Homo sapiens: one gene and its partners. The protein of the gene in region 5 interacts with the protein of the main gene of each other region in a biochemical or structural test. Each region holds a gene or a part of one and is shown on either strand. Other genes may lie near its edges.

Region 1 (4,395 bases), on a different chromosome or scaffold from region 5:
GCGGTGCGATCTCAGCTCACTGCAACCTCCGCCTCCCGGATTCAAACAATTTTCCTGCATAAGCCTCTCAAGTAGCTGGGATCGCAGGTGCCCACCACCATTCCTGGCTAATTTTTGTATTTTTAGTAGAGATGGGGTTTCACCATGTTGGCCAGGCTGGTCTTGAATTCCTGACTTCAGGTGATCCACCCATCTCGGTCTCCCAAAGTGTCAAAATTCACTTAAACCCCAAGAAACAAACCAAAAAAAAAAAAAAAAAAAAAAAAGGTGGCAGTTTTTTTCTCTTCTGAGACAACGTCGTGCTGTCACCCAGGATGGAGTGCAGTGTTGGAATCTCAGCTCACTCAGCCTCAACCTCCCAGGCTGAAGCAATCCTCCCACCTCTCAGCCTCCTGAGTAGCTGGGACCACCAGTGTACACCATCAGGCCTGGCTAATTTTTGCATTCTTGTAGAGGCCAAGTCGGGGCAGGGGGTTTCACCATGTTGCCCGGGCTGGTGTCAGACTCCTGAGCTCAAGTAATCTCCCACCTTGGCCTCCCAAAGCACTGGGATTACAGGTATGAGCACCCGGCCAAAAGAGAAGGCAGTTTCCAAGTGCTCCTTAATTTTTCGAGTTAAGGAAAAAACACACATATCACCCTAATTTCCCAAATTTCCTAGAGGAAAAACGGTAAAAGGAAAGAGACATACATAGGGTTCAGAGCAGGGCTTCGAGTCAGAGCTCTGAGTGTCTGGCAGTAACTCCCACAGGAAGCTCTAATGATTCCCAGGGATGCTAAAGGAGCAGCCACACCTAAAACTCACCACACTGCTATGAAAGGGGCTGGACGCATTGGCTCATGCCTGTAATCCCAGAACTTTGGGAGGCCAACCTGGGAGGATCACTTGAGGCCAGGAGTTTAAGACCAGCCTGGGCAACACAGCGATACCCACATTACTACAAAAAAATGAAAGTATCAGCCAGGCATAGTGGCGCACACCTGTGGTCCAAGCTCCTCGGGAAGCTAAGGTGAGAGGATCGCTTGAACCCAGGATTTTGAGGCTGCAGTGAGTTGTGATCATACCACTACACTCCAGCCTGAGCAACAGAGCAAGACCCTGTCTCTAAAAAAAAAGAAAAAAAGAAGAGAGGGAAGGAACTAGATCAACCCCCTTCACACATCCTGAAAGACAGGCAGGAAGGCACCAAACGCCAGGAAAGTGTGGTCTTACCCCGACTTTCCGCAGTAGGTCTCCCACAATGTTGAGGGCTGATATCCGGGCCGCAGGTGTGAGGGGGGTCCCCCCGGTGGAGTCGTCCAGGCCTGGGTGTGCAAAGGGAAGAGCATGTAACTCACCAACCTATAGTCATGTCTGTGCGTTAACATCGCTAGATCCAAAACCACGGGACAGGAGGGACACTGACGCCTTTCCTCGGATCCCAAAAGCTACCCTATTTCTTTCCGTAGTTAACCGCATCACACACCCAAGGCCCGTATGACAACCAATTTTTCAAGTCCTTGTGATGACTGCAACAAATACTTATTTTTACATGTTAGTCTTGCTCTGTCACCCGGACTGGAGTGCGGTGATGTGATCTCAGCTCACTGCAACCTCCGCCTCCCAGGTTCAAGCGATTCTCCTGCCTTGGCCTCTTGAGTAGCTGGGATTATAGCCATGTGCCACCACACCCGGCTAATTTTTGTATTTTTAGTAGAGACAGAGTTCCATCACGTTGTCCAGGCTGGTCTCGAACTCTTGACCTCAAATGATCTGCCCGCCTTGGCCTCCAAAAGTGCTGGGATTACGGGCGTGAGCCACCATGCCTGGCCTTTAACAAATTTTTTTTTTAATAGAGACAGGGTCTCACTATGTTGCCCAGGCTGATCATGAACTCCTAGTTTCAAGCGATCCTCCCACCTTGGCCGCCCAAAGGGCTGGTATTTACAGGCATGAGCCACCGTGCCCAGCCACATTAGTCTTTTTAAACAAACCCAAAACAAATCCTTTTGAAATTGTAGAAAATCCATATAGTTAATTAACATAATGGCATCTGTGATAGATACAAGAACTATAGACAGGATGATCCAGCTTTACAAGGGTCCCGCTCTGCAGAGCCTCTCTTCTCCAAGTGGGGTCCATGCACCAGCAGCACATGAGAACTGTTAGAAATGCAGAATCTCTCGGCCAGGCACAGTAGCTCACACCTGTAATCCCAGTGCTTTCAGAGGCCGAGGCAGTTCGATCAGTTGAGGTCAGGAGTTCAAGACCAGCCTGGCCAACATGGCAAAATCTTGTTTCTACTAAAAATACAAAATTAGCTGGGCATGGTAACAGGTGCCTGCCTGTAATCCCAGCTACTCGGGAGGCTGAGGCATGAGAATCGCTTGAATCCAGGAGGCAGAGGCTGCAGTGAGCCAAGATCAATGCCGCTGCACTCCAGCCTGGCCGACAGAGCAAGACTTTGTCTCAAAAAAAAAAAAAAAGAGAGAAAGAAATTTCAGGCCCCACCCAAGACCCACTTGATCTGAGGTACATTCTACCAAGATCCCCAGGTAAGCTACATGCATATTGAAGTGTGGAAACATAGCCAGGCATGGAGTTGCATGCCTCTAGTCCCAGCTACTCAGGAGGCTGAGGCAGGAGGATCACTGGAGCCCAGGAGTTGGAGGCTGCAGTGAGCTATGATTGCACCACTGCACTCCAGCCTGGGCCACAGACCAAGACTGTGTCTCTAAAAACAACAATGAAATAAAGTATGCAAAATGGCTCTAGACTGGGGCTAGGCACAGTGACTCATACATGTAATACCACCACTTTCAGGGGCTGAGGCAGGCAGATCACCTGAGGTCAGTAGTTTGAGACCAGCCCGGCCAACATGGTGAAACCCCATCTCTACTAAAAATACAAGATTAGCCAGGCATGGTGGTGGGCACCTGTAATTCAAGCTTACTCAGGAGGCTGAGGCAGGAGAATCACTTGAACCTGGGAGGAGGGGGTTACAGCGAGCCAATATCGCACCATTGCACTCCAGCCTGGGCAACAGAGCAAAACTCCATCTCAACAAAACTAAACAGAAGGGCTCTGCACCGGAATTCTAGAAGTCTCACTGGTCTCTTCATGCCCAGGGGACAAGCTAAGGGATAAGGTAGTAGATGGTAGGGTAAGCCCTGGAGCCTGCCTGCCTGGGTCTGAATCCCAAACCATCTGCCATTCAATTGCTTCATGACTCTGCTTAACTCAGAGCCTCACTTTCATCAAACGGGGACAGCACCTGCATCCTGGGCCTGCGGCGAAGGCTGCAGGCTGGCCAGCACACACTGAGCACTCCTTAACTGTCTGTTATTAATATCTGCTGTAAAAGGCCTGATCGGAAGCTGTCAGCAGAGGGGCTGGGGTGAGAACTGAGATTCTTTTTTTCTGCCCATGCAGCACACGTTACGCTGAGTCTAGCTCTCGGTGGATGTATTACTAAACCCACAGAACGCTTTTTACTTTTTTGTATTTGGTCAGTGACATTTCAAATTTGGGAGGTTTTATATTCAACAAGAGGATTTTTGACCAGGCGCGGTGGCTCACACCTGTAATCCCAGCACTTTGGGATCAGCCGAGGTGGGCGGATCACTTGAGTCCAGGAATTTGATACCAGCCTGGGCGACATGGCAAGACTGTGTCTCCACCTAAAATACAAAAGTTAGCCAGGTGCCTTTAGTCCCAGCTACTCCGGAGGATGAGGTGGGAGAATCACTTGAGCCCACGATGAAGAGGTTGCAGTGAGCCAAGATCACGTCACTACACTCCAGCCTGGGCAACAGAGTGAGATCCTGTCTCAAAAAAAAAAACCCAACAAAAAAAAAGAGGATTTCTGGCTTTGAAGAATGGAAAAAGCTGCAGATGAAGGGCCAATCCTCGTAGCTGCAGAGTGGCAGCCACCCGCTCTGGGTGGGGTTTCCATTTCATCAGACTCCACTACTGCCTCTTACCCAGTCCTCACTGATCTCAATGCCCATCCCCAAGAACATCCCAGTCTACTCTCTGCTCAAAGCCTGAGAGCAAATCAGGCTCTGAGCCTGATGCAAATCATCACACCCCCAGGACCCACCCCAGATTCTTACCCAGAAACACTTTGTGAACCGAGAAAATCCTGCAATTCCCACTCCCCTTACCACGTCTGAAGCTCCCAGGTGTGTTTAAACTTGAGCTGGGTCCTCGGTGAGCAATGGGCGTGGACGGCACGGAGCCCGTGGCCTGCACAGCTGTGTCTGTCCTCTCAGCTTCCACTGAGCTGGGCATGGGGGTCCTGGGTTTCTCCTGCTTCTGCTGCACGGCCAGTTCCTGCCGCAAATCTGTGCCAGAAAAAGGATTCAGGAATTCAAGTCCTCAGCCAGGCGCAGTGGCTCATGTTTATAATGCCA
Region 2 (4,395 bases), on a different chromosome or scaffold from region 5:
GAGCTGAAAGATAACAGTTTCACAGATTTTCAGGAATATTCCTTTAACATGCATTCAAGAATTTAATTTGCAGTTGAACTATTACTAGTGTTTCTTATCAAACCATTTATAATGAGAATGTAAAAAACCTTGGTAATTGCAAACTGCCTTTTCATTTACATGTTGGTAAAGGCTTATCCAGTTGAAGGTTTCATTTTCCAGCTGTGCTTATTAGTATTGAAGTAACCAATTTTATCATTTCTAAAGTATCTTAGGCCTGTAACATGAAAGATACAGTGAAAAGATGGATGATTGGAAAAGGTGGTGATTTGCCTGATACAGACAGCTAAGAGTGATTACTGAGTATATAAATGTAAAAAAATTATAAAATGTAATATGATTTTTATATGCCATTTGAACAGATAGTGATGAACAGCCTGACCTTTCTCTGTTCTCTTAAATAAGAACATTGAAATTCAGGTAGAAATGTATATTATACAACATTCAACCCTAAATAATATAGTTCATTTGTTTATTCAGCAAATATTGATTATCTGCTATGTGCCAGATACTTTTCTAGGTGTTAGGTAGTCTCTGCAAGTTAGAATCTAATGCCGGGTTGTAGATTCCTTTAGAAACAGAACCATGTCTTTATAGTCTTTCAGTTTATTTGCCCAAAGTTGACAGTCATCTCATGTTAGTCCAATTAAATTGTTGATCTGTGTTTCAGTTATTCATTGCTGAGAAACTAACCACCCCAGACACACTGACATAAAACAACAAGCATTTGTTGATTCTGTGAGTCAGGATGCAGACAGGATGAAACAGGGATGGCTTGTCTCTGCTATCTTTATGTGTGCCACAGCTGGGAAGGAGCTGAAAGCCAGGGACTGCAACAGTTGTAACTGGAGAGTCTACTTCCAAGATGGTTTCTTCATTCACATTTCTGACACCTTGATGGGAATGACTAGGTGCGTGGGACTTGTCAGCTGGAGAGGCTACAGGTAGCCTTCCCAGCATGACAGCCTCAGGGTATTTAAAGTTCTTACATAAGTGGTTCAGTGTCTAGTAGGCTGCATGGCCTCATATGATCTAGCCTTGAAGTTGCCTGGCATCCCTTCTCTGTTGGAAGCAGTCATAAACCCACCCATATCCAAGGAAAAGGGGACATAGGTTTCACCTTGTGATGGGAAGTCAAAAAAATTTGCAGCCATGTTCTAAAACCAACATAAACTAGCAAGAAGAATGATGTTATGCGGCGCAGAATATGATTACTACGACTGTTTGCGGCTTCTCGGTATACAAATCTCACTTGTTTGTTAGAAATTGGTAAGTCTGTAAGTTTCATTGAAATTCATAAGATTTTAGCATCAGCAACAAAGAGTCATTGTATAAAAGTTGCATGGCTGTCATGTGCCTTTGCTCTTGAGCTTTTAGGGTTTACAGGAATCTCTTAATTATTGGTAGAAATAGAGCATTAGCAGTAGTTTGCATAAATTTGATAATTTCACATTTAAGATCACCTTCCTATTTGAATGAAATCCTGCCCTTAACAAATGTGTTTTGATTTGAGAAGAGCAAACATTTTTCTCCTACAGATAAAATATTTATGAAAGATGAACATGTTTAAATAAAACTGCTATTTTTAACTGATTATGTATTAGTGAAATGAAGAATTTTAAGAGACATGGACAGTCTCTATCTTTGAACAGAGAAATAAAGCCTTTGAAAAATATTCTACATGTTGTACTAAATATGTAACATTTTGATTGTTTCTTTGAAATTCTGCCAAGCAACATCAGCTATATAGCATTCCTCCTACGCTCTACCACTCATCTCCAACCCACCCTTAACGATTTAACATTTAAGCCTTTGGTAATTGTAAGTGCTAGTTGTTGTTGTTGTTTTTAAATTGTGTGTTTGTGCCCTAGTTTATGGCAAGGTTCAGAATTACTTTTCCTCTTAAAAATTACAGTTTAATGCCATTATAAAAAGTTTACAATAGAAAACCTTTAAAGAAGCCTCTTTCCTTGCTGAGAACTTTTCTTGTTCATGAGATGGTTATGAAACCTTAAGTTCAAGTTTGTTCAGCCTGTGCCACATGCAGCCCAGGAAGGCTTTTGGGATTATTTTTTTTTTAAGCTTATCAGCTATCATTGATGTTAGTGTATTTTATGTGTGGACCAAGACAATTATTCTTCTTCCCGTGTGGCCCAGGGAAGCCAAAAGATTGGACAACCCTGCTTTAGATGATGGTCCAGGAAAAACTAAATAGAAAAAAAAGGGATCAGGATAGGCTGAGGCATGATTGCACTTTTAAATTCACACTTTAACTTGGAGGGAAGTTTGTGTTTAGCACATTCTTATCAGTATTGTTTTTTCATGTATGGTGTGAAAAAGCAGATATATGTATTTGCAAATCATGTGTATTCTAGTATCCAGAATATATAAAGAACTCTTAGAAATGAAAAGATAAATCCAATTTTAAATGGGCAAAGGATTTGAATAGATAGTTCTCCAAAGATACTCAAGTGGCCAGTAAGCACATGACATGCTCAACATCATTAGTTCATTTTTATATTGGATTATTTGTCTTTTTGCTAAGTTGTAAGAATTTTCTATGTATTCTGGATACTAGACCCTTACCAGATATATGATTTGCATATATTTTCTCCCATTCTGTCAGTTGTCTTTTCACTTTCCTACATCCTTTAAAGAACAAATATCTAATTTTTATGAAGTTCATTGTTGTTTGCTTATGCTTTTGGTGTCATATCTAAGAAAACATTGCCCAATTCAAGGTCACAAAAATTTACATGTACGTTTTCTTCTAAGAGTTTTCTAGTTTTCTCTCTTATAATTCAGTTTTTGATCCATTTGGAATTAATTGCAATGAGAAATCATAATGTGTATTGTTCAATCCTTTAAATTTTATTGAGGCCTTTCTTTTCTTTTTTTTTTTCTGGAGATAGCATCTCGCTCTGTCACCCAGGCTAGAGTGAAGCAGTGCAATCTTGGCTCACTGCAGCCTCCACCTGCTGGGTTCAAGTGACTCTTGTGCCTCAGCATCCGAGTAGCTGGGACTACAGGCGCACTCCACCATGCCCAACTAATTTTTTTTTTTTTTGTGCTTTTAGTAGAGACGGGGTCTTGCCATATTGCACCAGGCTTGTCTCAAACTCCTGAGCTCAGGTGATCCTCCACCTAGGTCTCCCGAAGAGCTAGGATTACAGGCGTGAGCCACCATGCCCAGCCTTGAGGCCTTTTTTAAAATGGCCTAGCACATGGCCTGTCTTGGAAAATGTCCTGTGTGTACTTGGGAATAATGTAAATTCTGCTGTTAATGGATGGAGTGCTCCATATGTCTATTGGGTCTAATTGGTCTATAGTGTTAAAGGGTCTATTTTCTGGTTCCATGTCTAGTTGTTCTGTTAGTATTGAAAGTCGAGTATCAAAAGCTTTATTGTTGATTTGTCTATTTCTCTCTTTGTCATTTTTTACTTACGTATTTTGGGGCCATTGTTTGGTACAATTTCTGTTTATAATTGTCATATCTTGTTATGTTTTTCTGTCTTTTGCTTTATTTATGTCTTTGAATCTGAAGTGTGTCTGTTGTAGACAGTTGGATTATGTTTCTTGTAGCCCATTCTGCCAGTCACTGACTTTTTATTGGGATGTTTCATTCATGTAATTTAATGTAATTACTGATAAGGTAGGCTTTACATTTGCCATTTTGCTGTTTGTTTCTATATGTCTTATTTCTTTTTTCCTCCATTTCTTCCATTTGTGTTAAATATTTTTAATATGCTATTTTAATTCCCGTGTCATTTCTCTTAATTAAAATTATTTTCTTAGTGGTTACCCTGGGGCTTACAATTAACATCCTAGTTTATAGCAGTCTATTTTAAATGAATACCAGCTTCATTTTCACTAATGAATTAGTCAGGGATCTGTAAGGAAATAGAACCAATATATGAGGAGTTGGCTGACATGATTAAGGAGTCTGAAAAATTACACGTTCTGCTCTCTGCACGCTGGCAACCCAGGGAAGTCAGTAGCATAATTCAGACCTTCTCAGTCAGAAGGTCTGAGAACTAGGAGAGCCAGTGATCCCAGTCTGAGGGCAGGAGATGAGATGTCACAACTCAAGCAGTAAGGCAGGAAAATAAGGAATGAATTTCTTCTTCCTCCACCTTCTGTTTTCTTCAGGCACTCAAAGGATTGAATGATGCAACCACATTGGGGAGGGCAATCTACTTTATACTTTATGGAGTCCACTGATTCACATGCTAGAAACAGCCTCACAGACACACTCAGAAACAATGTTTAATCTGGATACCCCATGGCCCACTCAGTTGACACATAAAATTAACCATCACAAGTAGTATACAAAAACTTTCATTCTCTCTCCCCTCC
Region 3 (4,395 bases), on a different chromosome or scaffold from region 5:
GTACTCGGAAGCGGCAGTAAATTTCTTTAACAGCACATGGGGGTCTGGTCAGGCCTCGGGGGTAGGAAGGAGGGAAAATCCGAGTGAGGCAGGAGTTAGCCTGCAGTGTGGCAGAACGGGTATGCATGTGGTGCCGTGCAGGTAACTTCAGGGAGTCAGGGGGCCCGGGCTAAGCCACCCTGCTCTTCAGGCTTATCTTATACATATTTTTTTTTATTTTAAAAAATGTGTTCAGACTGGGTGTGGTGGCTCACGCCTGTAATCCCAGCACTTTGGGAGGCTGAGGTGGGTGGATCACCTGAGGTCAGGAATTCGAGACCAGCCTGGCTAACATGGTGAAACCCTGTCTCTACTGAAAATACAAAAAATTAGCTGGGCGTAGTGGTGGGCGCCTGTAATCCCGGCCACTCAGGAGGCTGAGACAAGAGAATCGCTTGAACCTGGAAGGTGGAGGTTGCAGTGAGCCAAGATCACGCCACTGCACTCCAGCCTGGGCAACAAGAGCGAGACTCCATCTCCAAACAAAAACAAAAAATGTGTTCAAAGCTGGGCATGGTGGCACATGCCTGTTGTTCCCAGTTACTTGGGGGGGCTGAGGCAGATTGCTTAAGCCCAGGAGTTTGAGACCAGCCTGGGCAACATAGCGAGGCCCTGTCTCTGGGTGGAGAGAGGCTGGCACCAGGAGAGGGGCTGGGTCTGCTGCTCCACGCCTGCCCTGGTTCCCATCCATCCTGTCTACCCTCAGGGATTCCAGCAGAAGTTCACCTTCCACAGCAAGGAGATTGTGGCCATCAGCTGCTCGTGGTGCAAGCAGGCAGTGAGTGGTGCCCCCGCCCCCAGGGCCAGGCCCTGCACTGCTGGGTTTGGGTCCCCGAGTCTGAACACGGTCCCGCTGAGCCCGGCCCCTCGCTCTCCTCAGTACCACAGCAAGGTGTCCTGCTTCATGCTGCAGCAGATCGAGGAGCCGTGCTCGCTGGGGGTCCACGCAGCCGTGGTCATCCCGCCCACCTGGATCCTCCGCGCCCGGAGGCCCCAGGTGAGTACTGCCTGCACCCTTGATGCCCCGTACGCACTTGGGGTCTGCCAGCTACCCCAGCCTGCCCACCTCGTCACCAACACCCCTGCTTCCCTTGCAGAATACTCTGAAAGCAAGCAAGAAGAAGAAGAGGGCATCCTTCAAGAGGAAGTCCAGCAAGAAAGGGCCTGAGGTCAGCCCCAGGCTGGGCAGAGGCTGCAGGGGAGCAGGAGAGAGGGGTCTGTTGCTCAGGGTACAGAACTTCCACCCCCAGCTAATGCTGCCAGCTGGTGGGGGTCTGTGTGGGCTCTGGGGCCTCTGAGGAAGGCAGGATTAGATGCCAGTTTCTGCTCTGTGGCCTGGTAAGATCTGGCCCAGAGATGGTACGTGAGGGTACAAAGAGGGAACAAAGTCACCCAGGGGGCCTGCTAAGGATGATGGTAGGGTGTCCTGGACGGGAAGGAGCTTACAGCCTCTCACCTTGTCTCCCAGGAGGGCCGCTGGAGACCCTTCATCATCAGGCCCACCCCCTCCCCGCTCATGAAGCCCCTGCTGGTGTTTGTGAACCCCAAGAGTGGGGGCAACCAGGTGAACGCGGCCTTGCCTCTCAGCTAAGGGCTCGGGCGGGGGTTGGGGTCCAGCCCGTCTGCCAGCAGCTGTTCCCAGAGCCCGTTTCTGGCTTCTACCCCAATCCCTCTTTCCCAGGGATCCTGAGAAAATCCTGTCCTTTCTCCACCCCTCACCCCTTATTGGCCCTGGTTCCCACAGTCACACCCCTCTCCCTCTGCTGCTCCCACTTCGTCCCACCACTGCCTGACTGTCTCTTGGCTCCCCATCCCATCCAGGGTGCAAAGATCATCCAGTCTTTCCTCTGGTATCTCAATCCCCGACAAGTCTTCGACCTGAGCCAGGGAGGGCCCAAGGAGGCGTAAGTACTTGCCAAGGTTTTGTGGGGGACATGGGGGGGAACTTGCCTCACTCCTGGGGTACAGCACACATCCCCTGACCCCACTGCCATCTTCCCATGAGCCCAGGCTGGAGATGTACCGCAAAGTGCACAACCTGCGGATCCTGGCGTGCGGGGGCGACGGCACGGTGAGCTCCCCGCATGGGCCAGCCGAGCACCAGGGCTGGGCCTGAAGCCGGGGTCCCTGTGGGCCTGATTTGCCTCTGTTCTTCCTCCCCCAGGTGGGCTGGATCCTCTCCACCCTGGACCAGCTACGCCTGAAGCCGCCACCCCCTGTTGCCATCCTGCCCCTGGGTACTGGCAACGACTTGGCCCGAACCCTCAACTGGGGTGGGGTAAGCACCCATAGGAGGGGGGTGCAGCTGGGGCCTCTCCAGCCACAGAGGGCTCAGTCCCTGCCTGCTCCCCCAGGGCTACACAGATGAGCCTGTGTCCAAGATCCTCTCCCACGTGGAGGAGGGGAACGTGGTACAGCTGGACCGCTGGGACCTCCACGCTGAGCCCAACCCCGAGGCAGGGCCTGAGGACCGAGATGAAGGCGCCACCGACCGGGTAAGTTGGCCAGGGTTGGTGGGGGGCAGGGCAGGTGACTGGGGACTGGATCCCACTTTTCCACTTGCTGGTTCTGGGACCTCGGGCGTGTCTCTTCATTTCTCCAACTTCCACTTCTTCCTTGTACGATGGGAATAATAGTACTTGCCTCACAAGATGCTGTTTTTTCTGTGTTTTTTTTTTGTTTTTTTTTTTTTTTTTTTGAGACTGAGTCTCGCTCTGTTACCCAGGCTGGAGTGCAGTGGCGCAATCCCAGCTCACTGCAACCTCCGCCTCCCAGGTTCAAGCGATTCTCCTGCCTCAGCCTCCTGAGTAGCTGGGATTATAGGCAGGTGCCACCACACCTGGCTAATTTTTGTTTTTCTGTTTTCTTTTTTTTTTCTTGTTTTTTTTTTTGTTTTTGTTTTTTGTTTTTTGTGACAGAGTCTCACTGTCACCCAGGCTGGAGTACAGTGGCACAGTCTTGGCTCACTGCAACCTCTGCCTCCCGGGCTCAAGCTATTCTCCTCCGTCAGCCTCCTGAGTAGCTGGGACTACAGGCACCCGCCACCACACCCGGCTAATTTTTGTATTTTTAGTAGAGATGGGGTCTCACCATGTTGGTCAGCCTGGTTTTGAACTCCTGACCTCAGGTGATCCATCTGCCTCGGCCTCCCAAAGCACTGGGATTACAGGCATGAGCCACCACGCCTGGTCAGAAGATGCTGCTTTATTCCATAGACATGCACTGAGCGCCTGCTACCTGCCAGGCACTTCTCTAAGCAGTGAGCAAAACCAAGCCTCGCTGTTGTGCTCCACATGGCATGTCAGGAAGAAGTGTTAGGGGAGCTGACAGGGAAGAGATGCTGCAGGCACGCAGGGAAATCCCCCAGGAGCCACCAGGCAGAGCAGGGCTGTGCCTGACAGCGGGTGAGCTGGGCTGAGCCCTAGCGGACGCTGCTGACCAGGAAAAGCCTGTGAACAGATGGGCTGAGCTGGCTCGGCCACACGAGGCCCCTGGAGCGGGGACATTTGTGAGGCCCAGCCCTCATTTTGGTCCCTTGACCTTTTTCCAGTTGCCCCTGGATGTCTTCAACAACTACTTCAGCCTGGGCTTTGACGCCCACGTCACCCTGGAGTTCCACGAGTCTCGAGGTTGGCAGCCTCCCACTGAGGCCAGGGCAGGGTGGGCACAGGAGTGTCCCCGGGAGGGTCAGACCCTGCTCCCGCCAGTGAAGGCATCCATCCCAGCCCTCCCCCAACCCCACCTGGGCAGGCTGGGGTGACTCACTGGCCCCCACTGCTTGTCTCCACCCAGAGGCCAACCCAGAGAAATTCAACAGCCGCTTTCGGAATAAGATGTTCTACGCCGGGGTGAGTGGGGTCTGCACCCCCGCCTGTGCCCACCTCTTCTACCACCCGTGCCCGTGCCCACCTGTGTCCACCAGGCCCCAGGAGCCCTGCCGGGTGCTGGTGAGGAAAGATCTCTGTCAGCAGATGGTGACGCCCTCTGTCTCCCACAGACAGCTTTCTCTGACTTCCTGATGGGCAGCTCCAAGGACCTGGCCAAGCACATCCGAGTGGTGGTGAGCGGGGCCAGGCTGCCGTGGGTGGGTGGGCCGGAAGGGAGGGAGGCGGAGGCCACCTGGCACATGCACCTCAACACCCTCCCCGCCCGCCTCCAGTGTGATGGAATGGACTTGACTCCCAAGATCCAGGACCTGAAACCCCAGTGTGTTGTTTTCCTGAACATCCCCAGGTGAGGAGGGGGCTACCGGAGCTGGGGGGAGCCCTGCTGTCCTTGTCCTGCAGAGACTGTGTTTTGAGGCCCATGTCATCGCCCGCCTTTGCAGGTACTGTGCGGGCACCATGCCCTGGGGCC
Region 4 (4,395 bases), on a different chromosome or scaffold from region 5:
ATACATCAACCTGTCTTTGTAGAACTGTTTCATGGAGGCCATATATTATTACATCCTAATATCTACAGTGTTTTCTTCTGGAGCTCACAGTCTGGTGTGCGTATGTGTGTGTGTGTGTGTGTGTGTGTGTGTGTGTCCAGGGTGGGAGCACAGGCAAGTAAAGAGACAATCACAGTATATATGATAAGGATTGTCATGGAATGAAGCACAGAATGGTGATGGAAGGAACAAAGAGTGGGCATACCAAACACAGATTGGAAGGGTAAAGGAAGGCTTCCTAGAGGAGATGATGGCTTGAAGGATGAATTGAGAAGGACAAAGTACTTATCCAAGCCCATTTTTAGTGCCTAGTAGGCATTCATCTAATGAGATGGTGGATGTATAACACTTGGTACCTACCACATAGTCACAACTCAATATGTGGTAGATGTCATTATTGTTACCTGACCTTTTCAAACAAACTTGAATGGCAAGTTATGTTTACTATGAGGAGTATGTAAGATAATGCATGACATGTTAAGTACTTAATATAGTGTCTGGCATATAATAATTGCCCAGCAACTGGTGGCAGTTGATAGTGTTATTGTTGCTGCTATCATTATTTTTAGGTTTGGCTGGACTGAGATAGATGGAATCTTCCATCTCTGATCTTTTGGGTCATTCAACTCTGCAATTTGTTACATGTTACATTATTTCATATTACATGAAATTACATATTACATATTTATATATGTAATATGAAATTACATGTTACACATTACATTTTTTCAGATATAATGTCTGCAAGCATGCTTATGTTCAGAACTTTTCCCGATAACAATCTCTGGCCCCAACCATAACAATCTCTGGCCCCAACCACCGCTACCACCATCACCAGCCACATGGTGTTCTCAAGTTGTGGTCTCCACAAAGCATATAGGAAATAGAGGAGCTGGGCAGATGCGGTGGCTCACGCCTGTAATTCCAACACTTTGGGAAGCTGAGGCGGGTGGATCACTTAAGCTCAGGAGTTCAAGACCAGCCTGGGCAACATGGCAAAACCCCATCTCCACAAAAAAAAAAAAAAAAAAAAAAATAGCCAGGTGTGGTGGCATGCACCTGTGGTTTCAGCTACTCAGGAGGCTGAGGTGGGAAGATTGCTTGAGCCTGGGAGGTTGAGGCTGTAGTGAGCTGTGATTGTGCCACTGCACTCCAGCCTGGGCCACAGAATGAGACCTTGTCTCAAAAACAAACAAAAGAAAGAAGGAAGGAAAGAAAGAAGGAAGGAAGGAAGGAAGGAAGGAAAGAAAGAAAGAAGGAAAGAAAGAAAGGAAGGAAGGAAGGAGAAAGAAAGAAAGAGAAAAAAATAAAATAGAGGAATTGATGGTAGAAGAAGTGGAACAGAGCTGTTGTTGCCTCTGAAAATATTTTCTTTATAGTAAAGGGATGACATTGGTTTTCTGATGAGCCTCTGTATTTCCAATCTAAGGACAGTTGGTAGAAGTGAATCAAAATCTTTCCCCAACTTTGTTGGGCACTTTTGCTGTTCTGGATAGGAGGGTAGAGTGTATGTAGATTATAAATATGTTCCTCAGTCCAACCCCATCTCCCTACAACAGCTAGCAGAAATTCCTTCTCCATTAGCAATTAACAGTCCCTTTTCCCCTATTTTCCGTAGCTAGTGCAAGTTTTAGTTTTTTGTTGCAAAGCTTCATGGATATTTTAATGGGCATTCCTAGATGGTGGGTATCAGACTGTGTTATCTTGCTGCCATGTTAACCCAGAGTTCCCCCAGATACAATTGGTTTTCTTGCTAACAACTTCAGGGAGAAGGCACAAAAGTCCTTTGCTTTTTCATGGTCCTTTCTTACTGTCTTTCCAGCCCTCTCCATCCTGGGGGCCCTGTTTTCACCAGTCATCTTATTTTACCCAATACAGGAGTCCTCATCCTTTTTGTAAGGAAAAACTGTGTTGTATATTCCTGATGCCTTGATCTCCCTGGGAAGACGGAAATTAAAGGTAGAGGGAAGTTTACTGAATCTGGGGGCTGGCTACCAGGGTGTGGGAGTGAAGAGGATTGGGGAGATGCTGCTTACTGTCTTCCTCTCTGAGCTGAGAATCCAGGTAAACTGCAGAGAGCAGGGCAGGAGAAGGGCGATCATGTTGGAGAGTTAGCTTGCAAGGCCTTGATATTGTTTGTAGATCCCAAGCTACCGATTAGGGGCCCCTGACCTAATATAGTAAAAAAAAAAATGGTTTGTGTTGTCATTGTGGCTATTTTTTAATATCCTTCCAGAGGTATATCTCCCTTCCTGTATTAGCTTTCTAAATCTTGATACTGTGCACGCAGATTGATCCATTTGCCCTACTTTCCACTCCTTGTAGCATTGTCAATTGTCTTTCAGCCACCTCTGGAATTCTGGACTTGGTTTACCTAGCCTTTGTGACCACTCCATATATTGACATACAGGGAGCCTCCAAGCTGCAGACAGGCTGAGCTCTCAAAGTTCACTCTCAAGTCAATTGTTTGGAAGGTGACATGCATTTTTCCATAGGAGAAAAAAATTGTTATAAATTGAACTACATTTCCAGACCAGCCCACAAAAGATGTTTTTAGCTTTAATGTACTAAAAATGTGGGCCATTTGCAATGACAAAGTAGGAAATCTTGGTAATTCAGCAAAAACAAGAAGACAATCCAAGGGAATAAGAAATACTTTTGCTTGACTGCTGGTACTGGAGTCAAGAAAGCTGAACTGGATGAGGTACACAGGGCTTTCCGGAGGCTCTCCAGAAAGACTCATGGGGACTTTGAAAGTCTGGAATCATAACATAGTTCTAAGTTTACTTCAGAACTGATGGCTTTCAATAATAATGACTACCACATACTGAGCACTTACTGTGTGTCAGGCGCTGTGTTAGGCAGTTTACATACCTTCCCCTCATTTCATTTCATTCTCACAACAACACTATGAGGTAAATACTATAATGACCCTTATTTTACAGACTGAGGCTCAGAAGGGTCAAGGAACTTGACAAAAGTTATACAGACAGCACAATTAGAGGCCAAGTCAATGGTTTCCTACTGCCCAAACCTGTGCTTTACAATATATATCTGACCACTCTTTTCTTTTCTTTTCTTTATCTGGATATATTGGGAACACTACTTTTGGGGCTATCAGCCATGATTAGAGTTATGTGCCAGATCACAAGGAAACTAAGATTGGGAAACTAGGAGAGGTGGTACAAGGGAGAGAAGGAAGGAGGAAGGGACAGAGAATTTTGTTAGGCAAAAGTTCAACTAAGAAACCACATACGTCAGTGCTTCTCAAACTGTACTGTGCACTCAAATCACCTGAAACTCGTTAAAATGAAGATTATTATTCAGCAGATCTAGGGAGGGGCCTGAGATCCTGCATTTCTAAAAAGCTCCCAGGTGTGCTGCTCCTGCTGGCCCACGGACAACACTTTGAACAGTAAGGCCATATAGTGCAAATGATAAACAAAAAAATTCAAGCATCCATTAACACCTGCTTCCTAATTTAATCCAGATCAGCTTCTACACTAAACAGTCACTTATTATCCTCTTTTCTCCTGTAGCCTGTCTCAGGCCATTGTCTCCGCTTTAGTTCTGCCAGTCTGTTTCAGCTTATGTTTGTTTATTTATTTATTTGTACAAATTTAAGGGGTTCGAGTGCAGTTTTGGTACATGGATATATTGCAGAGTGGTGAAGTCTGGGCTTTTAATGTAACCGTCACCCAAACAGTGTAGATTGTACCCATTAAGTAATTTCTCATCTCTCACCTCCATGACATGTTTATGTTTAACTACTCATTTAAATACAGGTGTTAAATACATATGAACATCTTCTGTCACTCTGAGCACTAGGCAGTCTCAATCAGACATGAATTTCTCTTGGCACAAAGTAGATATTTGGCCACAGGGTTCCAGTCCTCAACAATGGCTCTCAGCTCTCTCACCCATTAGGAACAGTCTTATAAAGGTAAGGCATGTAGTAACACTACTGTCCCAGCGCTTTCTAATTTCCTTTCTTAGAGCTACTGCCTTCATCTGGAGCAGAAAGTAGCCTGGCTTTTTAAAGAGTCCAGATCCTTGTTCCTTTCACATAGTTGAAACAATCCCAGCATTAGTTTAAGGCAACCATTGAAAAGATTCTTTGCAGAGTCCTGCCAACTCCAAAAGCCCAGTGAAGTTTGTTTCCTGGAAGATAATTTACTTTATTTTGCCACCTCCTCTCCTCCGTCCTCTTAGGATTTTGACTGATCATTTTGAGCCATTCTTCATGTTTTTCTTCTATTTTTAGACTCTCTGACTAATTTTCTCCAGTAGCAAGAGTCAAGGAAAGCTTTCCACTCCAACCAAGCTCTACTTTTTAGGTAGGAAATATTCTCTCAC
Region 5 (4,366 bases):
AGATCTACCACAAGGTGAAGCGTGTCATCGAGGACCTCTCAGGCCCCTACATCTGGGTTCCAGCCCGAGAGAGACTCTGATTCCTGCCCTGGCTTGGCCTGGACTCGCCCTGCCTCCATCACCTGGGCCCTTGGTCTGGACTGAATTGCCCAAGCCCTTGGCTCCCCCCGGCCTCCCTCCCACCCCTTCTTATTTATTTCCTTTCTAACTGGATCCAGCCTGTTGGAGGGGGGACACTCCTCTGCATGTATCCCCGCACCCCAGAACTGGGCTCCTGAACGCCAGGAACCTGGGGTCTGGGGGGGAGCTGGGCTCCTTGTTCCGAGCCCTTGCTCCTTAGGATCCCCGCCCCCACCTGCCCCCAATGCACACACAGACCCACCGGGGGCCACCTGCCCTCCCCCATCCTCTCCCACACACATTCCAGAAGTCAGGGCCCCCTCGAGGAGCACCCGCTGCAGGGATGCAGGGCCACAGGCCTCCGCTCTCTCCTAAGGCAGGGTCTGGGGTCACCCCTGCCCTCATCGTAATTCCCCATGTTCCTTGATTTCTCATTTATTTTTTCCACTTTTTTTCTTCTCAAAGGTGGTTTTTTGGGGGGAGAAGCAGGGGACTCCGCAGCGGGCCCCTGCCTTCCACATGCCCCCACCATTTTTCTTTGCCGGTTTGCATGAGTGGAAGGTCTAAATGTGGCTTTTTTTTTTTTTTTTCCTGGGAATTTTTTTGGGGAAAAGGGAGGGATGGGTCTAGGGAGTGGGAAATGCGGGAGGGAGGGTGGGGGGCAGGGGTCGGGGGTCGGGTGTCCGGGAGCCAGGGAAGACTGGAAATGCTGCCGCCTTCTGCAATTTATTTATTTTTTTCTTTTGAGAGAGTGAAAGGAAGAGACAGATACTTGAAACTTGGTGTGTGGCCTGGTTATTTGGGACCTGGGTGTGGAGGGAGATGGGCGCAGCAGAGTCAGATCCTTCTTCACTCCAAGCCAGAGAGGTTAGTGGCCTGGAAAATGGGCCAGGGAGGTAACTGGCAAATCAAGGAACCCGAGTTGGTGAAGACTGAGCCTGGGAAGGTCTGGAGCTCTGTCCAAAGTCATGACAGGCCAGAAAGGGGAGGCTGGAACTTGTCTGGGGCCCTGCAGACTTAGTCCAGCTCTGATCCCTGCCGGGCTGTCTCAGTCCTGTTGGGAAGCACAACAGTCCTTAAAGGAAAATAGAGAGGAAACTTCGTTCATTCATGTTCATGGAGTTGTGGACAGAGCTAGGATCTGGAAATGATTTTTTTTGTTTTTTTGTTTTTTTTTTTGAGACAGAGTCTTGCTCTGTCGCACAGGCTGGAGTGCAGTGGCTCGATCTCGGCTCACTGTGATCTCTGCCACCCTGGTTCAAGTGATTCTCCTGCCTCAGCCCCCTGAGTAGCTGGGATTACAGATTACTGCCACCATGCCTGGCTAATTTTGTATTTTTAGTAGAGATGGGGTTTCACCATGTTGGTCAGGCTGGTCTTGAACTCCTGACCTTGTTATCCACCCGCCTCAGCCTCCCAAAGTGCTGGGATTACAGGCGTGAGCCACCGCGCCTGGCCTGGAAATGATCTTTACAGAGTTCTGCTGATAAGAACTGCTGTGTGAATATACGCTAGGTTTCTTTATGCGCCCCCCCCACCCTTTTTTTTTTTTTTTTGAGACAGAGTTTCGCTCTTTCGCTCAGGCTGGAGTGCTGTGGTGCGATCTTGGCTCACTGCAACCTCTGCCTGCTGGGTTCACACGGTTCTCCTGCCTCAGCCTCTCGAATAGCTGGGATTACAGGCGCCTGCCACCACTCCTGGCTAATTTTTGTATTTTTAGTAGAGATGGGGTTTTGCTTTGTTGGCCAGGCTGGTCTCGAACTCCTGACCTCAGGTGATCCGCCCAGCTTGGCCTCCCACAGTGTTAAGATTACAGGCATGAGCCACTACGCCCAGCCTTTATGTCCTATCTCTATGGGAAAGATCTGAGGCAGCTTTGTAAATAATGAGGGTAGGAAAATAAGAATCTAAATGCCAAAGATGAAAACTGGAGAAATGTATATGAACTGTGAGGGTAAATGTGATCTCTGAGCTTCCTGATAGCCATGGCAAAAAAGGAAATTGTCAATTACCTACTTCTTTATTATAAGGGAGAAATAATTTTAGTTCTTTTAGGGAGTCATATTTTCCTGGCCCTAAGTCCTAACTGAAGCTCCTGAGATCCTGCTATGTAGAATGGTGACTCTCAGCCTTCTGCCTTCTTCATGTGTTTGGCACAGATGAACCTTTGGGGGCACCTGCTGGGGTACTATTCCTTTCTCTGATTCTCAGGTGCTCCAGTGGGTAAGGCTGAGGCAGAGGGCCCTAAGAGTTATGGTGGTTAAATCCCAAACAGTGCAAAAGGGCATTTTTTGTAGCCACTCCTGACTAAAGTTGAGAGTTTCATGCAAAAGACCAACCCAGGGGTAGTGATTCTGTGGATGGCATGGCCGTCCAAGCCTAAAGTAGTCCAAGAATAGAGGCAGAGATTGCTGAAGGGGTGTCACTTCAACCAGTAGCCACGTATTGCCCTGCAGGATTTTCTATGCAGGACCGAGTCCATCAGGATCCTGGGGATAGGGACCAGGGGTCTGCATTTCTGGAAAGCTCCCGGGTGATTTTGATGTCTCACTGGGTGGAGAAGCACTGCTTCAGAGGATTTTTTTTTTTTTTTTTTTGAGGTCGAGTTTCACTTTTGTTGCCCAAGCTGGAGTGCAATGGCGCGATCTCGGCTCACTGCAACCTCCAACTCCAGGGTTCAAGTGATTCTCCTGCCTCAGCTTCCCAAGTAGCTGGGATTACAGATGCGTGCCATAACACACAGCTATTTTTTAATATTTTTAGTAGAAACGGGGTTTCACCATGTTAGCCAAGCTGGTCTCAAACTCTTGACCTCAGGTGATCTGCCCGCCTTGGCCTCCCAAAGTGCTGGGATTACAGGCGTGAGCCACTGCACCTGGCCCTGATGTTTTTCAAATAATCCTTCTCTTAGCTTGGTTCTGTGTAATAGCAGATGGCTTGAGGCTGTGATAACGTTCTCTATCGTGAGCTGAAGGGAGAAATCTAGGAGCTGAGGAAGGTGTGTGCAGGTAATGCGTCTGCGTGTTAAACTAGAAGGGGCAGAATCACATATTTGACCTGGATGGGGTAGAATCACATAATTTTGCATGTATTATTATTATTATTATTATTATTATTATTGGAGACAGAGTTTCGCTCTTGTTGCCCAGGCTGGAGTGCAGTGGTGCGATCTCTGCTCACTGCAACCTCTGCCTTCCGGATTCAAGCTATTCTCCTGCCTCAGCCTCCCGAGTAGCTGGGATTACAGGTGCATGCCACCACGCCCAGCTAATTTTTTGTATTTAGTAGAGATGGGGATTTCACCATATTGATCAGGCTGGTCTCGAACTCCTGACCTCGGGTGATCCACCCCCCCCCCCCTCGGCCTCCCAAAGTGCTAGGATTACAGGCATGAGCCACCGCGCCTGGCCTGCATGCATTATTTTGTAAATTATAATCAGTACACGTACCTGACAACAATTCAAATAAATATAGAAATACATACTGTTTTTAAAAAGTTTCCTTCCTGTTTCCCTCCAGGCATTATTCCTCAGGGGAAGCACGGTTGCCGCTGGGGCTGTATTCTTCCAAGGCCATGGCCTGGCCGCTTGAGAAGGCAATGTAATTAATGCATTGGAGCCCTGGGCTCCCAAACAACATAGGTTCAAATCCTGGTTCCTCTTCTCCCCACACTTTTTACTTCTTTCAGTAAATACTTCCTTGGATGTTCCTTGGAACCAGGCAGTGTTCTAGATGCTGGGAAGGCAACATCCCTGTCCTTAGGGAACTTTGGGTGCATCCAGTGGAGATGACAGACTATAGGGAGTAAGTGAACACAGAGTGTTTAGACAATGATGGGTGCTACTATGAAAGAGAGTGATGGCCCTTGCTGGTTTAGACCGGGCGGTCAGGGAGGCCCCTTGCAGCATCATTTGGGTGGAGGCCTGAAGGACAACAAAGACTGGGGTGGTGAGAGTGTGCCAAGTAGGGAGACGAACAGTCTGGAAGGAATAAATTTGAAAGGTTGGAGGACAGAAGGAGGCCACTGGAGTGGAGTAGGGTGGGGGACAGAGAGAAATAGGTGTGTCAGAGAAGTCAGAGAGGCGTGGCACACAGGACTTCCCGTGGATTTTTCAGAGTGGTGTAGAAGCTGCTGGAGGGCTGTGGAGGGAACCGTGAGCCAGTTACTCTGGGTGTGAAGGGGAATACACAGCAGGGGGCAATGGAGAGCCAGCTAGGCTGTTGCTGGCGTTAGGATGAGGGACGA
Region 6 (4,395 bases), on a different chromosome or scaffold from region 5:
TGAGTGAGAGAACCCTTCTGGGTCTAAGATCTTAACCCTTAAAATGTTCTAGAGAACTCTGGCCATAAGCAAGTGTCTTTTAAAAACAATGCTCCATTGAATATAGTTTTGAAATCATGACATTTATCTGGTTTTAAAATTTGAAAAGTTGAGATAACAAACATTTATCATTCTTTGGCAAAATTTCCTCCAGCATTATTTTGTCCCTCAAGATTCTCTCTAAGTTGCAGTGACCACTACAGAAAAATTCATACAATAATACACAGTGTATAATAAAGTGTGTGTGTGCAAAATATAAGTTTAAACTCTTTTAAGTTTAGCTGGGAGTGGTGGCTTATACCTGTAATCCCAGCAATTTGAGAAACTGAGGTGGGAGGATTGCTTGAGCTCAGGAGTTCGTGACCAGCCAGGACAATATGACAAAACCCTGTCTCTACAAAAAATACAAAAATTAACCAGGTGTGGCAGCACACGCCTGTAGTCCCAGCTACTTGGGAGGCTGAGGCAAGAGGATTGCTTGAGCCGGAGAGGTCGAGGCTGCAGTGAGCCGTGATTGCACCACTGCATTCCAGCCTGGGCGACAGAGTGAGACCCTGTCTCACAAAAAATAAAAAATTTTAATTTTAAAGGAGATAGACAAGAAATGAGCATGTGTGAAAGCACTTCTGTAAACTACATGCACTAATGATGCCACCCATTATTTAGCTATGAGATCTTGGGATAGTTACTTAACCTCTCTGTACCAAGGTTTCCTCATTCAGAAAATAGGGATAGTAATAAATGAATCCAGGTAAAATACTTTTTTAAAGTACCTACACATAAATTGTTGTCAATAAATGTTAACTATTATTATTTTACTTATTAGTGTAATGTTGTATAAAAAATTCATATGAGCTAAACCCAAGTGGCCAGGAGAAGAAGCCCCTAATATAAACATGTAAATCTCATAGAGGATATGGACCATGTTGATATTACCTGGGCCATGTTGACATTACACATAGACATTCTGACTCATGTCCACACAGGTGGAGGAACCCAACTGGGCAACAGGCAGGAACTTCTAGACTTTGTTCACTGTGCATCTTACTTCCTGCAGGCCCATCATTGGCCAGATTATCAACCTGAAAGCCTCCTTGGACCTCCTGACCGCAGTCACAATTGAAACTGATCCCCAGACACACCAGCCTGTTGCCGTCCTGGGAGAATGCGCCAGTGACCCAACCAGCATCTCACTTTCCTTGCTGGACAAGTAAGTCCCATTCATCTTAGTAGAGCTGGGCTCTCAGGGAACTTGAGGACCCCTAATTTCAGCTCTAGTCCTCTACCTAAGAGGAGGCCTAGTGGTGAAAGTGTTCAGGCTCTGGAGTCATGTTGACCTTGGTTTACACATCAGCTCTGCCACTAACTTGTAACTTTATCACCAACTTGACCCAGGCCTGTTTTCACATCTGTAAACTGGGGGTGTTCATAATAACTACTCATAGGCTTCTGAGATGACCAGATGAGAAAATACAAATATTTAGCACGCAGCCTGGAACATGCTGCCTCTCTGCCTGCTGGTTCTCTCCATTACTGAGACTGGAGTGTTGAGCTCCCCACCATAATCATGGATTTGTTCATTTCGCCTTTCAACTCGGTCAGTTTCTGCTTCATACCCTTTGGAGCTCTGTTGTTAGGTGCATGCACATTAGGATTGTTATGACTTCTTGGAGAATTGTCCACTTTATTGTTATGTAATGTCCCTCAATAATAATAATAATAATAACGATAAAATTATATTTACCTTCTTGCCTCCAGTTGGGAGGGAGAGGGGAGAGTAAGTGCCTGCCACGGGCTCTAATTTCAGATTGTCCCCAAATCATCCTCCACCCAGTGGAAATTTCCTGAAAGGAGATCTTGAAAACTTAATCCTCTCCATTTGACTCACTGATCCCTTTTAATCCACAAAATCTACATCTTAAGCTCTGTGCCTGAAAGAGCAGGTTTGACTCAGGCAAGAGGGTGGAAGGAGAAAGAGTGATGCTGGCCGATGGCTGGGAGAGGATGAATGACCCAGAAGCTGAGGGCTGGGGCTACTTGGCCTTGGCCAGGAGCAAGGCTGGGTCCTCAGCTCTCAGCCCCTGTGGCCATGAGCAGAGGACACTCCACTCGCCCTGCACTGAGGGATCTGAACACAGGTTGCTCAAAGACCCCTGAAAACCAAAGAAAGTTTCCATAGCCTGATGTGAGTTGCGAAGGCCGGGGTGTAAATTCAGAGGCTGGAGCCTGGCTGGGTGCTATCTTCCCAAGTAGCCTCAGGGACGCCATCCTGCTGCACTAGGTCTGTGCCCACATCTGTGAGATGGCACCACTCTGAGGCTCCAGATCCTCCCAGGGTCTTTCTTTGCACTTGTGGTTCAATCCCAAGTGCTCCCCATGGTCATGAAGGCTCTGTTTGATCTGGCCCCACCCTTGTATCCCTGTACCCTCCCCTTACTCACTGTGCCCAGATACAGTGGCCTTTGTGCCATGTCTCAGATAGGCTGTTTCTCAAGGCTCTTTCCCAGCTTAAGACCTTTGCCTGGGGTGCTCTGGCTACCTAGAGCACCTTCTTCTCACTCCACTTTGATGGACTTTTGCATCCTTCAGGGCCTTCCCAGGGCTCCTCCTATTCTCTCTCGTAAGAGTCTAACTCTTGCCTTTAAAGCACTCGTCACAAGTTCTCAATATATATTTAATTGTATGTTCACTTCTTTCATTCTTTCAGCCAAAAATGTATTGAGGCTGGGCACGATGGCTCCACACCGGTAATCCCAGCACTTTGGGAGGCTGAGGTGGGTGGATCACTTGAGGTCAGGAGTTCAAGACCAGCTTGGCCAACATGGCAAAATCCTGTCTCTACTAAAAATACAAAAATTAGCCGGGGGTGGTGGCGGTTTCCTGTAATCCCAGCTACTCGGGACGCTGAGGCACAAGCATTGCTTGAACCCAGGAGGCAGAGGTTGCAGTGAGCCGAGATCGTGCCACTGCACTCCAGTCTGGGTGACAGAGCAAGACATTGTCTCAAAAAAAAAAAAAAAAGTGTATTGAGCATCTGCTGTGTGCCAGGCAGGCACCATTCTGGGCTCTGGAGAACTGATTGGTGATGACAGACAAGGTCCCTGTTCTTGCGGAGCTTACCCAAGGGAAAGCTAAGCTGCCGTGGATCTGTGTCCACATCTGTGAAATGACACCACTCTACAGCTCCAAATCCTCTCAGCGCTTTTCTTTGCACTTTGGATCCAATCCAACCCAAATTCAGTCCATCGGTAAAGAACGCTCCAGGGAAATGAGTCCTGCAGAAAGCATTACCCTTAACTGGGCACTGTGATAGCAAAGCTCTCTCTTAGGTAAGCAGTCAGGGAGGGGTGCCCTGAGGAGGTGGCAATTATACTAAGAGTTGAAGGTGGGAGGAGCCAACTTTGGCAAGATTTGTTTAGGTACCACATCAGGGTATGTTTGGACCCTTAATGTTTAGGTACCAGGTTAGGGGATGTTTGTACTTTACTTATTCGGTATCCTCAGGGCCCAGCTAGGTTCCTGGTGCATAGCTGGTGCTCTGTAAATACGGGTTGAATGAGTGAACGAATAAGGTCTCTGCGCTGAGAATCTCATGAGGCACTGGGGTGAGCCGCTGGTCAGATGTGGGAGTCTAAGTGATGATCCATGTGGATGGGAGGCTCTGTCTGTTAAAGTGTCTCCATGTCCCTGGGGTTTATCTGACTCCACAGTATTTCCCGCACCGCCCCCAACTTTTTGGCAGTTCTCCCATCTCTTGCCCACTTGACCAGACTTTAATAGTTCCCTGTGTTTTCCAGACACAGCCAAATCATCAACAAGTTCGTGAATAGCGTGATCAACACGCTGAAAAGCACTGTATCCTCCCTGCTGCAGAAGGAGGTGAGTCTCCCACTCCTTGGAGCCCAGATCCAGGCCTGGTGGGGGCAGGTGGGGGAATTTGCAGGCCTGGCTGTATCCTCTGAGCACTTTTCCTTCGGAGGTGAAAGCTTCTCCTTAGGAGGTCAGCTGGAGCTTCCTCCTCTACTAATCAGCCTGGTGGGTAGCAGGGTAGAGCAGAGGCCTGACATTAGCTGAAATTGCCAGGTCCCAAACTTGAGCCTCTCACCATATCCACGCACTACCAATATGCTTTTGTAGCTAACATCTTCAACACAATTTTACTTAAATATGTTTCTTTAGAAGCATTTATTTTTAAAAATAAAACTTTATATCCCTATCATAAATAGAAAATTAATATCACATATCATACAATCAATGGACTTATAAAATAGTTTTAATTTTTTTTCCATCTGTGCATCATCCAAAACCATAGGTACCATGTGCAGGATTACTAGGCCCAAAGTTGCAGAGATTCTA
Region 7 (4,395 bases), on a different chromosome or scaffold from region 5:
TATGGTTTACAGAATTTGGCATAAGATAAATAGTCTATACTAAATAATTAGTGAGTGAAGTCATATACAATTCATTCTAACATTTGTTGCAAACAAATTGTCATATTTGTTTAGCTGAACAATTACCATGTCAGTACTTCTTTATTGAATATAACGGAATACAATGTACATGTTAAAAGTAAATAGCCTGCTCTTGGACTTGGTCTCAGAGAATAAACTTTTATTTCTGTTTTTACATTTGAAGTATATATATATTATATATATAAAATATAATATATATATTTGGTGATTGATGGTTAAAAAGTCATCAACTTGTATTTCCAAGGAGTCTCTGTTTTACTGCTTTAAGCTCAATAAGCAAAGTTATGATGATATTGAAATGGGTTTTTATAGATGTCAGTAAGTTTTTATTTTAGAAAGTCTTTTTTGAAAGCTAGGAAAACACAATCATTTCTATGAAAGAAATGTTTCCAAAGTTTGAAAATGAAAAGTAATTTCCCTGCAATTACAATTTACTATAGGGTTTTAATTTTTATTTTGGTTATTTTTTATAGGCTTCACAAGTTTTATGAGATTTGCTTAATTGAAAATAAGAACATGATTACCTGACAAAGATGAGGTTCAAAGAAAGCAGTAGGCAAAAGTTCATAAAATTAATGGTAAAATTTTCCTAATGAATGTAGGAATGAGTGTATTTTTCTATTGAACTGGCACAGTTATTTATCTGGTCAGAGACTGGTGTGGGGGAGAACACGCGGCCATCTGGCTGATTCAAGGCTGTTGTATTGATTCAACATTGGATAACATACTGACCATGGTGATTTTACAATGGTTCCTGTAACTGGAGTCCTGGATATTTGTCTCTTTTGAAGTTCACGATCCAAGTCACCGGTCTTTACCCTAGTACAGGAGCAGTTAGCAGTCTCAGCTATACAGTGGTGGAGTCTGGAATTAGTTTTGGTGTAAATCCCAAACATGCCCAACTGAATTGTGGCTCAGGGCGATGTCCTGCTTCATGGCCTAGGGCCAGGGCTGGCAAACTTAACCCATCTGATGTGTTTACTTATTTTAGAAAGCTTTATGACCATTTTTATAAATAAAGTTTTATTTAAACACAGCCATGCCCTTTTGTTTGTATACTGTGGCTGCTCTTGGGAGAGTTGGATAGCTGTGACAGAAACCACATGGCTTGCAAAGCCTAAAATATTTACTCTCTGCCCTTTACATGGGTATTTTACTGTTCTTCTTTGATCTCTCTGCCCAGTACTCAAATTTCCCTTTGGGGCAGTCTGGGTGTCAGCCTTCTTTACTAGCAGGGGGAAGGATGGATATGGTTGGAGATTCACCCTGAACACAGTCACCCTTGCCAGCCCCGCTCTGGGGGACTTAAACTGTCAGCACTTACAATACCACTTGTAGGTTAACTTAGAAGCTTTGTAAAGTGCAAATTGGATCCTCCCTGTCCCCTCCGTCTACATACTTTTGAGGGGAAAATCCATATTCTTTATCCTTACCCTTTTGGGTTTGGCCTGATTCACTTGGTTCCTTTGAGAACTGTATTTCTCGGGCTGGGCGCGGTGGCTCACGCCTGTAATCCCAACACTTTGGGAGGCCGAGGTGGGCGGATCACAAGGTCAGGAGATCGAGACCATCCTGGCTAACACGGTCAAACCCCGTCTCTACTAAAAATACAAAAAAATTAGCCGGGCGTGGTGGCGGGCGCTTGTAGTCTCAGCTACTCGGGAGGCTGAGGCAGGAGAATAGCTTGAATCTGGGAGGCGAAGCTTGCAGTGAGCTGAGATTGCGCCACTGTGCTTCCAACCTGGGCAACAGAACGAGACTCTGTCTCAAAAAAAAAAAGAAAAGAAAAAGAGAACCATATTTCTCTGAACTTGTTATTCCTCCTTTCCAGCCTTAACTTCCTACTCAACACCAAACACACACGTGTATACACACACATACAGAGACACACACACACACACATCTACCCCTAACCATGTTGAATTTTTTAGAAGTCCTAAAAAGTGCCACACCCTGAGCCTTTGCATAAACTCTTCATTTTGTCTGGAACAATCTTTATCTTGCCTCCTTTACACCTGAAAAATTCCTATCTGTCTTTTATATTTCAGCTTTTAATCTAAGGTTGTTCCATGTCACCTTCTCCAACCTCCCAATCCTGGGTTAAATAGCTCGACTGACATCTTTTATTAGCGAAGATAATTTCACTGCTTTAACAGATCAATCCCTCAATTTTTGTGGCCCATCTCTTGTTTGCTTGATACACAAAACAGGCATTCCTGATGGTGTGGGGGAGCTCTGATATGCTCAGCCATTCTGAGAACCTGTAAGATAGGACTATCTCATCTTCAGTATGCTATCGAAGGTTTCCTGCACATCAGTGTTCAGCTGACAGATGAGGGGAGAGAATGGTAGAAGATTGGGTGACAGGTTTTTAAGGGCTATGCCCAGAATCAAAGTATACCATTCTACCCTCATTCCATTAGGCAGAACTCTGACCCTATGTAACTGTGAGGCAAGCTGGGAAGTTTAGTGCCACTGTGTACCCTATCTGTGCTGGACATGTCATGCCCTGCTCTTTTCACAACATTTCTTCATTGTGTGGTAGATTGTAATTTTGTTCCCAATTCTTAAATCTTCCCTGAATCCAAGCCTTTTCCATGTGACATTATAGTTCTACTTCCTAGAGGTAGAGGGTACCTCTTTGCCCCATTGCTGTTGGGCTTGGCCAAGTAACTTGCTTTGGCCAGTGGAATATGGACAGAAGTCACAGGGTATCTGTTTTGGTACAAGTTTTTGGTAGGAGAATGCCTTTAAGGTATTGTACGTTTCTAAAAAAGAATGTAAAAAAGCAAAAAGCTCTTAACATTGCTATATGAAGAACTGCCTAGTTTAACCTGTTGGTCCTAGAAGCTAGATTCACATGGACCAGCACCATCAGGCAAACCTGTGAGCATGAAAACAGATGCTTATTCTTGTATGACACTGTGTTATGCAGCATTGTTGTGGCAATGGCTGACTGGTATAGATGGTATTATAATTGAGTCCAGTTTTGATCTGTGTCTCATTTATGAACTCTTCAAGGGCAAATCCCCTGGTATTAAACCTCCTTGGTTTATAGTAGATTTAAGGATACCTTGTTTCATTGCACTCTGGTTTATTGGTGCTTTATAGATACTGCACTTTCTACAAATTGAAGGTTTGTGCCAACTCCACATCAAGCAATCTGTCAGCACCATTTTTTCAACAGCATGTGCTCATTTCGTGTTTCTGTGTCATATTTTTCATTATTATTATTATATCTGTTATGGTGATGTGTGATCAGTAATCTTTGATGTTACTATTGGAATTGTTTGATGTTACTATTGCAATTGTTTTGGGCTGTCATGAACCACACATATAAGATGGCAAACTTAATTGATAAATGTTGTGTGTGTTCTGACTGCTGTACCAACTAGCCATTCCCTCATGTCTCTCCCTTTCCTCAGGCTCCCCTGTTCCTTGAGACATAACAATATTGAAATCAGGCCAATTAATAACCCTACAGTAGCCTGCAAGTGTTCAAGTTAAAGGAAGAGTTGTACATCTCTCACTTTAAATTGAAAGCCAGAAATAATTAAGTTTGGTACGGAAGGCATGTTGAAAGCTGAGATAGGCCAAAAACTAGACCTCTTGTGCCAAACAGTTCGCCAAACTGTGACTACAAAGGAAAAGCTCTTGAAGGAAATTAAAAGTGCTACTCCAGGAAACACACAAACGATAAGAAAGTGAAACAGCCTTATTACTGATATGGAGAAAGTTTGAGTGGTCTGGATAGAAGATCAAACCAGCCACAACATTCCGTTAAGCCAAAGCCTAATCCAGAGCAAGACTCTTAACTCTCTTAAATTCTGCGAAGGCTGAGAAAAGTGAGGAAGCTGCAGATAAAACGTTTGAAGCTAGCAGGGATTAGTTTGTGAGGCTTAAGGAAAGATGCTGTCTCCATAACATGAAAGTACAAGGTAAAGCGGCAAGTGCTAATGGAAAAGCTGCAGCAAATTATCCAGAAGACCTAGCTAAGATCACTGATGAAGATGACTACACTAAACCGCAGATTTTCAGTGTAGACTAACCTTCAATTGGAAGAAGATGCCATCTAGGACTTTCATAGCTAGAGAAGAAAAGTCAATGCCTGGCTTCAAAGCTTGAAAGGACAGGCTGACTCTCTTTTTTGGAGTTAATGCAGCTGGCGACTTTAAGTTAAGGCTAATGCTCATTTGCCATTCCACAACTTCTAGAGCCCTTAAGAATTATGCTAACTCTACTCTGCTTGTGCTCTAGGAATGGAACCACAAAGCCTGGATGACAGTACATCTGTTTACAGCATGGTTTACTGAA

What was found.
Region 1: the proteins of DLG4 (region 5) and NDE1 interact in a test that uses a peptide from one of them, tested with the Homo sapiens proteins (one large-scale study listed by IntAct).
Region 2: the proteins of DLG4 (region 5) and LNX2 interact in a test that uses a peptide from one of them, tested with the Homo sapiens proteins (one large-scale study listed by IntAct).
Region 3: the proteins of DLG4 (region 5) and DGKZ interact in a biophysical measurement, tested with the Homo sapiens proteins (one large-scale study listed by IntAct).
Region 4: the proteins of DLG4 (region 5) and NCBP2L interact in a test that uses a peptide from one of them, tested with the Homo sapiens proteins (one large-scale study listed by IntAct).
Region 6: the proteins of DLG4 (region 5) and BPIFA2 interact in a test that uses a peptide from one of them, tested with the Homo sapiens proteins (one large-scale study listed by IntAct).
Region 7: the proteins of DLG4 (region 5) and FRMPD4 interact in a biophysical measurement, tested with the Homo sapiens proteins (2 studies listed by IntAct, with this or other methods).

The regions. Positions count from the first base shown.
Region 1 is NC_000016.10:15,691,075-15,695,469, reverse strand, and holds part of NDE1 (nuclear distribution protein nudE homolog 1), read right to left. Parts: intron 4,327-4,395; coding exon 4,147-4,326; intron 3,661-4,146; coding exon of another isoform or gene 3,602-3,660; exon of another isoform or gene 3,304-3,601; intron 1,306-3,303; coding exon 1,214-1,305; intron 1-1,213. UniProt on the Homo sapiens protein: Required for centrosome duplication and formation and function of the mitotic spindle. Essential for the development of the cerebral cortex.
Region 2 is NC_000013.11:27,575,274-27,579,668, reverse strand, and holds part of LNX2 (ligand of Numb protein X 2), read left to right. Parts: intron 1-4,395.
Region 3 is NC_000011.10:46,370,568-46,374,962, forward strand, and holds part of DGKZ (diacylglycerol kinase zeta), read left to right. Parts: intron 1-745; coding exon 746-817; intron 818-919; coding exon 920-1,036; intron 1,037-1,136; coding exon 1,137-1,208; intron 1,209-1,507; coding exon 1,508-1,603; intron 1,604-1,860; coding exon 1,861-1,943; intron 1,944-2,049; coding exon 2,050-2,110; intron 2,111-2,203; coding exon 2,204-2,317; intron 2,318-2,393; coding exon 2,394-2,534; intron 2,535-3,589; coding exon 3,590-3,668; intron 3,669-3,831; coding exon 3,832-3,887; intron 3,888-4,036; coding exon 4,037-4,099; intron 4,100-4,198; coding exon 4,199-4,272; intron 4,273-4,366; coding exon 4,367-4,395. UniProt on the Homo sapiens protein: Diacylglycerol kinase that converts diacylglycerol/DAG into phosphatidic acid/phosphatidate/PA and regulates the respective levels of these two bioactive lipids.
Region 4 is NC_000023.11:107,783,756-107,788,150, forward strand, and holds part of NCBP2L (nuclear cap-binding protein subunit 2-like), read left to right. Parts: intron 1-4,395.
Region 5 is NC_000017.11:7,186,422-7,190,787, reverse strand, and holds the end of DLG4 (disks large homolog 4), read left to right. Parts: coding exon 1-80; 3' UTR 81-3,601; downstream 3,602-4,366. UniProt on the Homo sapiens protein: Postsynaptic scaffolding protein that plays a critical role in synaptogenesis and synaptic plasticity by providing a platform for the postsynaptic clustering of crucial synaptic proteins.
Region 6 is NC_000020.11:33,174,311-33,178,705, forward strand, and holds part of BPIFA2 (BPI fold-containing family A member 2 precursor), read left to right. Parts: intron 1-1,096; coding exon 1,097-1,249; intron 1,250-3,836; coding exon 3,837-3,918; intron 3,919-4,395. UniProt on the Homo sapiens protein: Has strong antibacterial activity against P.aeruginosa.
Region 7 is NC_000023.11:12,144,516-12,148,910, forward strand, and holds part of FRMPD4 (FERM and PDZ domain-containing protein 4), read left to right. Parts: intron 1-4,395. UniProt on the Homo sapiens protein: Positive regulator of dendritic spine morphogenesis and density. Required for the maintenance of excitatory synaptic transmission. Binds phosphatidylinositol 4,5-bisphosphate.